Regions from separate parts of the Homo sapiens genome. Here regions 2 and 3 are each linked to region 1. The links come from fine-mapping of genetic effects on gene expression. A gene starts in region 1. Each other region holds a variant in brackets. All regions are shown on one strand. Distances are from middle to middle. Region 1 holds the start of GNA14 (G protein subunit alpha 14). Region 2 overlaps GNA14 (G protein subunit alpha 14). Region 3 overlaps GNA14 (G protein subunit alpha 14).

What was found. PIP is the estimated chance that this variant, and not a neighbour inherited with it, causes the effect.
Region 2: its variant is the best candidate, but not a certain one, in a credible set for the expression of GNA14 in nasal epithelium (TOPMed, PIP 0.82).
Region 3: its variant is the best candidate, but not a certain one, in a credible set for the expression of GNA14 in tibial nerve (GTEx, PIP 0.80).

The regions. Positions count from the first base shown.
Region 1 is chr9:77,646,663-77,650,904 of GRCh38, forward strand. GNA14 (G protein subunit alpha 14) reads right to left here and starts at 1,660. Exons shown (of 7, transcript NM_004297.4): 1 at 1,008-1,660. The coding sequence starts at 1,131.
Region 2 is chr9:77,568,874-77,573,115 of GRCh38, forward strand. All of the region lies in intron 1 of GNA14 (G protein subunit alpha 14), which reads right to left. Among named protein-coding and RNA genes, the nearest start is that of GNA14, 77 kb to the right of the region's middle. The variant G/T (reference allele first, on the strand shown) is at 2,140.
Region 3 is chr9:77,512,677-77,516,918 of GRCh38, forward strand. The region is part of intron 2 of GNA14 (G protein subunit alpha 14); the gene reads right to left. All of the region lies in intron 2 of GNA14-AS1 (GNA14 antisense RNA 1), which reads left to right. Among named protein-coding and RNA genes, the nearest start is that of GNA14-AS1, 67 kb to the left of the region's middle. The variant T/C (reference allele first, on the strand shown) is at 2,318.

The DNA.
Region 1 (4,242 bases):
GGGGTGAAAGAAAAAAAGTTGAAATCTTTGTGGCTATCTAGAAAAAAATTGACAGCTGATATCATGGTCTGAAAGGTAGAAAAGGTAAAATATTCCTCAAACAGCAAATGTGTTGACAGCGTTCTAGAAAGTCTGAGATGGGATCCTTGCCTCATGGCATAACTTGGGCAAACCTTAAACTGTGTTCTTTCTGTGTTTGAAAGTGGATGTCCTACCCAGACCTTTGCAGAGACACCAAAAGAGCTGGATGAAGACCTGCCAGAGGCACCAGGGCAGCCAAGCTGAATCCTAGGACGTGGACACACTGAGTCAAGCTGGGCAAGGGAGGTTTGGGTCCGCTGCAAACACAAAGGCCTGAGGGACCCCCATGGGAGGCAGGCATAGGAGCTCACGGTCAGAGGAGCAGCAACGGCATGGGCTTCACCCCCACAGCTGACCTAGCATCGGCTTTGCCTTTTCTCAATCAGGGCAAGTTGGTCAGTTCTCCAGGCCTCCATGTTTTAATTCTCTAGAATAGCGATATCACCTGCCCGCATCACCAGGTGGTGATGCCCTTAAGAACTTAGCACGATCTGGCACATGGTAAATTCTCAAGATGCTTCATCTAGAACTGAAAGCGTACGGGTCAGAGCTAGCGCTGAACCCAAGATGTGGGTCACCACAGACCCCAAGCTGGGTGTGCTGCGGGCGGAGGAGTGGACGGGGTTTTGAGGAGAGGGGCACACCGGAACACATAAGGTACAGCGGTCAAGAGGTTAAGTGTTACAGGTCCCTATCCTGTTTTGGGGCAGGGGAAGGTGTTGCTTTTGCAAGTCGCCCAGCCAGAGATGGAAAGAACAGGCACCTAAGGCCCCAAGTTGCTGGCATCCGTGAGCTCCGAGGGGGAGAAGGACGAAGCCGCCCTGCACCCCGCTGGGCTCCAGGGCCGCGCGGGTGCCAGTGGAGAGGCCGGGAGGGCTCGGAAGAAAAACGCCCGGCTCACTGGAGTCGGAGACGCAGCCACTCACCCAGCAGCAGCAGCTTAAGCTCACGGCGCGCGTCCTTCTTGTCCCGACGAAGCTGTCGCTCGATCTCCGCGCTGATGCGCTGCGACTCCTTCTCCTCCGCGGACAGGCAGCAGCAGCCGGCCATGGTGCGCTCAGCTCAGTACCCGACGGGGCGACGCGGCCCCGGGCACCCGAATCCTCGGCCCGGCCGCTCACCCGGCCAGCATGCGACGGGCACAGGGGTGTGGAAAGAAAAGACGGGGGCCGACTTGAGCTTTGGAGTAAGACGCCTGGACCTCCGAGGCTCAATCCCCCTTCGAAAGTCGGCTCTGAGGCGGGGTGAATGCCGAGCGCTGGGAACGCTCGAGTGCACCCCGGATCCGGGCTCAGCCCGCCCCACTCTCGCTCTGGGGAGGAGGAGGGCGAGTCGAGAAGTTGGGAGCGTTGCTGGCCCCGGGAAGATGCGCGCGCCCCTTGGCACAGGAGCCGGACAGCAGTCGGGGGCGCAGACGAGTTGGAACGTCGGTGCTCGGGGGAGAGTAGGATCTCCTGGGCCTAGGGGTGTCCCCAGGCGGGAGGTAGGCGCGGAGTGGGTTGGAGGCAAAGGACCTGGCTGGCCTTTGCCTGGAAAGTTCTGAAAACCTCAGCAGTGACCGCAGACTAAGACTGAGTGGAAAGGTTCCCGCTAGCGTTTGTGGCTCTAAGTGGCAGGAGGAGGCGGAGCATCTTGAACCTGCAGCCCTGGCGTCTGCTGGACTTGCCCTTCTGGGCACCCCAAGCCGAAGGCGCCTGGAAGTGAAAGGGGACGAGCAGGGGGCGCGGAGCTGGGGGTGGGAGCTGGCACCTCTAGGAGCAGCTCCCACACTTGCCTCCCTGGCTGGGGCGTCCCGGCCAAGGTTTGCTGTAATCTGCGCGTCTGGCCGCCAGGCACCGGGTTCCGACAGGTGAGTGAGTTTCGCCAACTCACTCGCTCGGAGAAGGCGGCAGCAGGCTGGAAGAGGAGCGGCGCCAAGCGTCTGTTGCGGGACACAAAGCCCCGGACCTGAAGTGGAAGCTTGCCCACCAGCTTCACCACCACGCACACCCGGATTTCCTAGACTGGCTCCTTCCGCTTCCCGGACGCCCCGGCCCAGCTCGGGCTTGGCCAAAGCCCTTGGTCAGCTCGGCAATTTGCCTGTAAAGTGTGGCTGGGCCTGAGCCTGCTGGCTCTGAGCTCGGAGAAGGAGCCGCCGCTGGGTTCAGTTATAAGAGAACTGCAAGAGCCCAGGGTAAATATCCTCTCGGTCTCCGGACGAGGGGGCTGGGGAGAAAGGGAACGGCTGATTGCTTTGCATTTTATGATGGGAAAGACACCTGCTTTGTAGAAAGGGCTGATACGTTCCTAGTAGCACCTGGCAAGTTTCCTGCCCAGCCCTGAAGCCTAACAGCCGCCTTGCGATTGTGTCCGCACTGACACCTTGGCCTGTATCCTGGACCGTCGGGGTCAAGTTTGAGCAGCATTAATAAAAACTTTAAAAGCACCTCTTAGTACTTAAGTGACACGATAAAATGCATATTACAACATCTGACTTTTGTCTGTGTAGATTTTGATGCAGAAAAGGGAAGGTGGGGAGAGGGGATCCTATTGGCCACAGCAATGAACGTTCTTTCCTTCTCAAGTCAGTATAGGCCATATGCTAATGGGGCGTTAGGCAATTAGCTAGCGCTTCCTCTACTAAGAGCAGGCATAAGTGCCTTTCATTTGAGTAGCATATATTTTATAAATTCAAACTGAGGAGCACATTGAGTGGAATGGTACGTGTCATTATATAAAGAAGTTGGTATCGCGATGCTATCTGGCTGCATGTTCTTATTATTTTACAGTTTAAGAAATGTAGAGGAATCAGACATTAAAAATGTGCATACATGCTTTAATGTGTGACTATTTTAGTTTTCTTGCAGGCATAAATTGACAGTAACAGTGACCCCTACAGGAAAACTCCTGGACATTTCAGATTTGATCTTTGGCCATTTAATAGCCTGTTTCTTCTCTCTTAGCTCTTACGGATTCATTTACAATTTGAGAATAAGATCTCTTGGCTTCTCAAAGTCATGGTTGCATCATAATTGTTATCATTTAAAAATTATAAAAAATTTTTAAATGATTAAAACTAGGGCAAATTTGAACTCTTACGTTAACGGGAATTACTGATACTGACCTATTAGGTTTAAAGTTGGCAAGATTTCAAAAACAGTTATGAAACATATTGATTAGGGCAAATCTGTACAACTTTCCTGGGCTAGTCAGCTTGGCAGTATATATCTGAAGCCTTAAACATGTCCGTCCCCTTCGGCCAAACCAGTAATTTCTCCCTTAAGAAATAACTAGAAAGAAGCCTCATGACTGATGCAAAGGTTTTATTGCCAATACAACAACAAAAACTCACAACCTAAATACCTAACAACAGGGAAGAGATCACTTAAATCATGGTTTATCCATACAATGAGATGTTTTGGAGCCATTAAATATGTGGATATGCGAGTAGTAAACATGTGAATAAATTTGGAGAAAATCCTCAAAATATATTGAATGAAAAAGGCAAGATCCAAAAATATAAAGAGTATGATAAGATTTTAGTATAAGAATACGCATACACATTTTTAAGAGACTGAAGGGACACACATCAAAAAGGTAGCTTGCTGTGAGTCATGGCTGTTTGGTTGATTTTCATTGTTCATTAGAAAATTTGGGCTGGGTGCAGTGGCTCACGTCTGTAATCCCAGCACTTTGGGAGGCCGAGGCGGGCAGATCACCTGAGGTTGGGAGTTCGAGACCAGCCAGCCTGACCAACATGGAGAAACCCCATCTCTACTAAAAATACAAAATTAGTTGGGTGTGGTGGCACATGCCTGTAATCCCAGCTACTCGGGAGGCTGAGGCAGGAGAATTGCTTGAATCCGGAAGGCAGAGGTTGTGGTGAGCCAAGATCACACCATTGCACTCCAGCCTGGGCAACAAGAGCCAAACTCCGTCTCAAAAAAAAAAAAAAAGAAAGAAAAAATTTGGGGCAGCTTGCATAAAATTATTTAGGCTCCACTTTCCTTAACTATAAGATGAGAGGGATAAGCCAGAATAAGCTCAAAAGGATCACCCAACTCTAACATGCATTATTTCTTTGATGACATTCACACTTATCCAAAATAAATTTATTTAAAAATAATCAAAAACCTAAAGTTGTTATTGAGCATCAGCCACTGGTAAGAAACAGAAAACTGG
Region 2 (4,242 bases), 78 kb before region 1:
ACAGTAAAGTCGCACTTCAGAAACCCCTAATGGGATGCAATTTGGAAAGAGACTGTCATGCCACGTCTGAGATCAGCAGGTGTCTCTGCTACTCGATATTTTCAGGTGGATCTCCAAATCAGACAAGTTTTTCAATGCCCAGGCAGAAAGAGCTTTCTATTTAGCCCAGCTTTGATGAGAAACCCAAGTCCCATATGTGCCTTCTCTTATTCTGTTAAAGAGCTCCGCCACCCCAGATGCATTTTAAACTGAATCTCCAGCCTCATGAATCTCTTTTGCCTTTTTTTTTTTTAAATGGGGTTGGGAAAAAAAGGTTCCCTCCCCGCAGAAGGTGTGTTGAACTTACTCTTGCTATTAATATATGTTTCAAGCATGCTCTTCCCTTGATCCTGGTTGTGACATGGTAACTAGCAAGGGGGGCAGGGGGATGCAGTCCTATTAGCACAGCAGTATAGGCAGAGAGATCATTGGCATTTGGCCAAACTTGGTAACTCAAGAAGGAAAATACTGCTGGATGTGCTGCAGCTACTCCTCTCCAGTGCTGGAGGGGCCAGAACTGTCCTGCCCAACAAGTTTCCCGAGGACCTACTATGTGTTGGGAACTGTGAAATGGCTGTGAACAAGATGGACACAGCTCCTGCTCCCCAGGAGCTTACAAAACGGTCAGAGGGAGACAACTCCACAGGAGACCACTCGGTATAGTGAGTTCCACCAACAGGGGCTGCTCCAGGGAGGAATTAAGGTGGAAAGAAGAAAGAGCCCAGGCTATGTGGGGGCTTTGGTTTCTCCCCCGGGTTCAATATTTCAGGGGCTGTGTCTGCCCCTGTAAAGTGAAAGAGAGAGCCATCTCCTCTTGGAGGAGGGTAGTAGGGATATGTTTTTCTTTTCCTTTCTTTCTTTTTTTTTTTTTTAAGACGGAGTTTCGCTCTTTCACCCAGGCAGGAGTGCTGTGGCACAATCTTGGCTCACTGCAACCTCTGCCTTCCAGTTTCAAGCAATTCTCCTGCCTCAGCCTCCCCAACAGCTGGGATTACAGGCGTGTGCCACCATGTCTGGCTAATTTTTGTATTTTTAGTAGAGACGGGGTTTCACTGTGTTGGTCAGTCTGATCTCGAACTCTTGACCTCGTGATCCGCTTGCCTCGGCCTCCCAAAGTGCTGGGATTACAGGCATGAGCCACCACGCAAAAATCATGGAAGCGAAAATGTCCACACATTTTAGGACCAAGAATTGTATTTCGATTAATTTTTGTCATTATTGTTTGTTGGAGGAAGTTAACTTTAAACTAAACAAATAAATATATATTAACTTAATTCTAACACCATTTCCCCCAATTTTAACAGCTTTATTGAAATATAATCAACATACTATCAAGTTTACCCATTTAATGTGTACAATTCAATGGTTTTTAATATATTTACTGAGTTGTGCAAGCATCACCACAATCTCATTTTAGAACATCTTATCATGTTTTAAAGAAAGAAACCCCAAAAGAAACTTTTTACCCATTAGCAGTGACTCCTTGCCCCCACCACTGCAGCCCAGGCAACACTAATCTACTTTGTCTCTTTAGATTTGCCTATTCTGGGCATTTCATATGTGGAATCATGCAATATATGTGTTTTTTGCATGCATAACTGGCTTCCTTTATTCACATAATTTTTTTAGGTTTATTTATCTGGTAGCGTGCATCAGTACTTCATTTTTTATTGCCAAATAATATTCTATTATGGCTATTCCACACATTTTGTTTATTTTTTCATCAGATTATAGACATTTGGGTTGTTTCCACTCTTTGGCTACTATGGATAATGCTGCTATGCACATTCATGTACAAGTTTTGTGTGGATATATGTTTCAATTCTTTAGGTGTATACCTAGGAGTAACCTTGCTGGGTCGTATGGTAGCTCCATGTTTAACCTTTTGTGGAATTACCACAGTGTTTTCTAAAGTCGATGTATCATTTTACATTCCCACTGGAAATATCTGAGCTCTCAAATTTTAATGTTTCTGAAATAAGAGTACAACTTATAATCTATGTGCATATTTAATAGAGTAAATTGCCCTTTTACATTCAATATAATAAGTTATTTACTGAGACCCAACTAAGTGCTAGGCATACCTTACTTAATGCTCAT[G/T]TACTCTATGATAGAGGTATTATTTTATAGATGAGAAAACTGAGGTTCAAAAAATGGGCTAGAATTGTATAGCTACCACAACTGCATGGTGCTAGTAGTAGCATTTAAACCTGAGTCAGTTATCTGTCAAAATCCAATTTTCCTCCACACTCTTATGCTATTGTTCAAAGATGAGCAAAGGATAATATGTACCTTCTATGAGTTCATAATCTCTGAGACAGATAAATATATAAATATTTGAACACAAGTAAGGCTGAGATAAGTTCTCAATAAGAGGAATTTTTCTAAGTACTGTGGAGGGGTTGGAGTTAAATTTTGACAGAGGAAATCTTGAAGATATTTTGGGATAAGTGGGATTTAAGAGGGTCTTATTTGTAGTGTATGGAAGAATATCTTAAATCAATGCTCTAAGACTATGTCATCCAATATGGTGCCTACTAACCACATGTGGCTGTTGAGCACTTGAAATGTGGCTAGTTTGGTTTGGGAAGTACTGTAAATACACACCAGATTTCAAAAACTTATCATTAAAAAGGGAAGTGCTTTGGGAAGCCGAGGCGGGCAGATCACATGAGGTCAGGAGTTCAAGACCAGCCTGACCAACATGGAGAAACCCTGTCTCTACTAAAAATACAAAATTAGCCAAGCTTGGTGGCATATGCCTGTAATACCAGCTACTCGAGAGGCTGAGGCAGGAGAATCGCTTGACTCCAGCCTGGGCAACAAGAGCAAACCTCTGCCTTCAAAAAAAAAAAAAAAGGTTAAGTGCTGTGAATACACAGGCATTTAAGGACTTATTATTTTTAAGAGTGTAAAATATCTCATTAATTTTTATATTAAGTGTATGTTGAAATGATAATTTTTTTGATATATTGGGTTAAATAAACATATATTACTAAAATTAATTTCATCTTTTTTTTTCCACCAACTGGCTGCTCATAAGAGAATCTGTGTTTTCACTTCAGTGTATTTACATTGTGTAAATGTTGGTTTCTAGCGATTTCAATTGAGGAGCAACTGAAAGAGAGTGGTGGCTGAGACCAAGGATTTGGGGAGAACTCTGAACAGGGTGAATAGAAAGGCCCATGAAAAATTCCCAGGTTAAGAAGAAAAGTCAAGTAATCTTGCAAATTACAAGTTTGTCTTTATTGACAGTGGATGATTTTTTGGCCTGTGAGTTATAAGGAACTAAAAGAAGGGCAATCACAGTGACAACAAAAGTGTTTTCCAAGAAAAGATCTAAGGAAAGAAACAGAGACCTAACACGTAGGGAAGAAGAATTATAAAATGCATCAATGGAATTATGTAGACTGAGAAATAATATCCAAAAACTTATCCAGACAAATCTTCCATTCTTCCTTTCTTGGGTCAGTCCTACCTTTAGACATTTCTTTTTTCTCCTTTCTTTCATAAAATGAAAGGAAATATCATATATCCATCATAGTTTTATAGAATACATAAAAAGACACAAATTCCAAATTGGCCCCAAAAGGTATTTTAGAAGAGAAGCTTTGTTTCAATGTGTAATAAACTGATCTGTGACCTGTGATCCAGTTTTTAAAAATATTTATGTCAGACTCACAATCTGCAATTAGAAACTAAAATTAACTAGCAACAAATACAACAAATTAGTTTGAATTAGCCAAGGTAATCAAGTCTATCAAAGAAATTAAATATATTAAGCAATAATGAGCCTAAACATCATCCTATGCCTTGAAAATCTTGCAAAAACTTGGTGTCTGTGTGCCTCCTGGGGACTCTGTACATTTTTAAATCAGGTCAGGCCAGATCCAATTAGGATGCTCTGAATGCTTTGGGGTTATAGTTTAATGAGTTATAGCAATAATTTACTAAATGTTCCATTGTGGCTTCATGGAGATAATATTACAGGTAGATAGCACAGGTCAATAGAACTAGCTGATTAGGATTTGCAGAAATAAACTATGACTAATAAGCCAACAATATACTGTCGACGCTAAATATTTAGTGATATTACCTCAGCTAAAATGAGATTATAGGTCACTTTAATACTCTGCTTGAAAGTTACTTTTATCAATCCTTGAATGCTTTCAGAGAATAATCTGTTAATTTTTCTGCATCAAA
Region 3 (4,242 bases), 130 kb before region 1:
TCACTTCTCTCATGCCTGTTATAGATTGATAATCTTTTTATATCAATAAACATAGCTTTACCTCGTTCTTTTTAAAAATTTAAGCATTTGAACAAACCCCCGCTAAAAGGCATCCCATTTAGACCACTCTCAGAATATACTATCCAGATTTTATTTGATTTTTACTGGCACTGGTTCGAAGGTCACTGTCATGCTTTGTTTCAATTAGCAAAATAAATTTGAAATAATCTCTGGCTTGTTTACTTCTCTTCAAGGAAAATAAAAAAATATTTTCCATGCAACTATTTCAAATCCACTCAACAGAAGGTTCTTCAATCCTCAAACTTTATCCAGTGAAAGCACTAATCCTGATATTTCTCTAGTTTCTTTGATGGCATGACCCCTTGTGTAAATATTGATAGAGATTACACTGACAGTTGTGTAAGCCAGCTGGATCCCAGCCAGGGACAAAGGAATTTATAAAAGGCCAGGAATAGAGAATCCAAGACAGAGAATCCCCCAATCACCTCATTTAGCACTTTCATAATCAGATCATTAAATGATACCCTAACACTACACAAGGCCTTGAATCACCCATCAAGAAGCATACAGAACAATAGTTAGCAGCTCTGCCTGGGACGTCAGGCCTCCTGGGCTCAGTTTCCCACTCTGACATCTGCTACTTGTGTGATCTTGGGAAAGTTATTTACCTCCACAAACCTTAGTGCCTGTATCTCTAAAGTCAGGGCAAGTGATAGTACCTACATTGAAGAACTATTTAAGATAAAATCATATATTTCCAATAAAGACTGGCACAGAGTGCCTGACATGGATTCACACTCATTTTAGCGCCCAGAAGTATACACAGTCCCTGCCCTTAGGGAGCTCACGAAGTACTGGAAGAGACAACTGTGATGGGTCTATGACACAGGGGACACACTCAATAATTCCGTGAGGAGGCACAGCAATTGCATGACACTCCTGGCCTCTGCCCCTTCCTCTCTTTCGCACCACTCTTCCAGGTCATTACAGGACTGCCCTGCTGGGTGAGGCCTGAGTCTTCCCGAACACATGATGACCTTATAGCTAAGTCCACCACATTCTGGGTTTAGGACAAGTCCTCACTCCAGTTATGAGCCATGCTCTCTATACTTCAGCATTAACCACAATACATTTTGGTCACCTTATTGTTTGCTGTTTGGTCTTATCCTCAATTTCTTTAAAACTTGGTTGATGAAAAGGGTATTATCTATTGAATATCTCTCCTAGTTCATAAGCAAGCCATTGTTCCCTTCAGCACTTTTTTTTTTTGGCCCTCAGGGATTCTAAAACAGCTGTCTGGTGTCTCTGCTTGAGAAGTCATTGTCACAGACTTAACTTTTCCTGGAAGGGTACATTTGCAGCTCAACAAACACATCCCAAGAGCTAAGCATGGCCAATCCCAAGCTTCCCAAACTAAGTTTAGGGCCCCATGCCAGGCTTTTTGGTTATCTTGCAACTCAGAAGCAATATTTCCAATGGCCAAATATTTCTTTGGAAAAAGACAAACATGGCCATGTGGACCCCTGTTGCTTTTTGCCCGATATCACAGTCCCATAGTCAAGGAGGCAAAATTCTATCCCATGGGAGAACAGCTGAGCACGTCCTCTGAGGTTGTGGATACTACCACCTAGATGAATCTCTCAGATACCTTTGGGTTCATAATATTGTCTTCACACAGCGTCTTAATATCATTGACTTCACGTTTATTGAGCCCGAAGGGATGCAGAGGTAAACCCGACATGATTCCCCATCAAAGAACTCTTGGTCTGAAGTGGGAGAGATGCATAAATTAAGAATTATAATGTAATACGAAGGATACTGGGCATTACAGGTACACTGGAAAGAGTATCTAACCCAAGGGTGGGTGGGTGGAAAAAGAAGGTGTCAAAGAAAGTCTTCTATAATATCAGATTTTTTTTTTTTTTTTTTTTTTTGAGACAGAGTCTCACTCTGTCCCCCAGGCTAGAGTGCAGTGGTGCGATCTCGGCTCACTGCAAGCTCCGCCTCCCGGGTTCACGCCATTCTCCTGCCTCAGCCTCCCAAGTAGCTGGGACTACAGGCGTCTGCCACCACGCCCGGCTAATTTTTTGTATTTTTAGTGGAGACGGGGTTTCACCGTGTTAGCCAGGATAGTCTCGATCTCCTGTCCTTGTGATCCGCCCACCTCGGCCTCCCAAAGTGCTGGGATTACAGGCATGAGCCACTGCGCCCAGCCCAGATTTCTTATTTAAGACAAATAAATGAAGTTAGCTATTTATGAGTACAAAGGAAATCAGTTTCAGGACGTTCAGGCAGA[T/C]GGAGGATGTGAGATGACAGTGAGGCCTGGGAGAAGCAGGAAACCACAATCCAATAGGGAGAGGAAATGAGGCTGGACACTGCGAGAGACACGTTCAAGAAAGGCCAGAATGTGGCCTTAAGGTCAACTGCATGGGCTCATAAAAAAATCACATTCCTTTGCCCCAGGAATGAGTTCTTCAGTGGATAGGCTTTTGGCAAACTGGCCTGCATCTATGTCAGGCACTGCAGCTACAAAGGTGGGGAAAAGTAGGCATAGACCTTGGCCTTCATAGATCTTCCATTCTAGTGGAGGACAAGAAAGACGTGGGCAGGCAAAGAGGAAAGGGAAGCAGAGAGAGGAGCATGTGGAAAAGTCCTGGGCTTGAAGGAGCATTGTGAATACAGGGACCAAAAGAAAGGAGGTCACTGTGGTTGAAGCTGAATGAGCATGCGGCAGAGCCGGGCAGCCACTGCTGCCAAAAACCACAAGGCTTGCAAAAATAGTAAAAGAGAGGCTGTTGATCTGCTATTGGGTTCCCCGCCCTTAAAATGCCAAAACTATGTTATAATAACTTGAGATTTCTAATGGTGTTCATCTGGAATTCAAAAGGTATTTGTTTGTTTGTTTATGCATTGCCTTTGTCTGAGAGCTGGAGGAAACAGACAGGAATACAGCATTGCTCTTGAGGAATTCAAGAGTGAGCTGGTGCCAGTTTCTGTGGCTCACGTCAGTAATCCCAACACTTTGGAAGGCCAAGGTAGGAGGATCACTTGTGTCTAGGAGTTCAAGACCAGCCTGGGCAACATAGGGAGACCCCATCTTTACAAAAAAATAAAAAATTAGCCAGGCCTGGGGGTGTGCACCTGTAGTCCCAGTTAGGAGGCTGAAGTGGGAGGATTGCTTAAGCCTGGGAGGTCGAGGTTGCAGTGAGCCATGATCATGCCACTGCACTCAACCCAGGCAACGCAGCAAGACCCTGTCTCACAAAAAAAAAAAAAAAAAAAAAAACCCAGAGCAGGAAGAGACAGCCATGTAACAGAGTTTCACACTATGGGGAGAGATGGGAACTAACAGGGGCAGGTGGTACATGACCCGCAAGCAGAGAGTCACTGAAGACTTAGAGGTCTCCAGGAAACCTTTACTCAAGGATCTCCTTCACAAGGCAATGGACCATTAAATCCTCGAAGCTTTGTAATATCAGACTAGTTGCCCATTTTGTCTTCTCTTGGGCCCAATCTTTAGAAAGCACTCTTAGCTTGTGCTATTCATTTCATTCGTATAACAAATATTTATCAAATGTCTACTATTGCTATGGGTTAGGTCTCCTTGTCTAAGTTTCCTAGGTGAAAATTATTATTTGGCATTATCAGTCATTCATATCAACCTCTAGTGGCAGAGATACCACTCACTTGGAGGCAGGGAAGCAAAACTGTCATAGATGGGTGTTCATAATCAAAGTAACACAGGTCAGCCGGGCATGGTGGCTCACACCTGTAATCCCAGCACTTTGGGAGGCCAAGGCAGCTGATCACTTGAGGCCAGGAGTTCGAGACCAGCCTGGCCAACATGGTGAAACCACATCTCCACTAAAAATACAAAAATTAGATGGGTGTGGTGGTGTGCACCTGTAGTCCTGGCTACTCGGGAAGCTAAGGTGGGAGAATCACTTGAATCTAGGAGGCGGAGGTTGCAGTAAGCTGAGATGGCACCACTGCACTCCAGCCTGGGCAAAAGAGTGAGACCCCATTGGGGGTGGGGGGCGGTAGGGGGCAGGGGAATGTAACACAGGTCTTGACCTGGCATGGGGGTTAGGAAGGACATCAAGTTACACCTTTGTGGACAGTGACAAGAGTAATCTCTGGCCAAATATATAAAATCAAAACATCTCTTACAACAATAATGACAACCTGTCTCTTAAAGATGGGAAAGTGAGGATCGTGGTT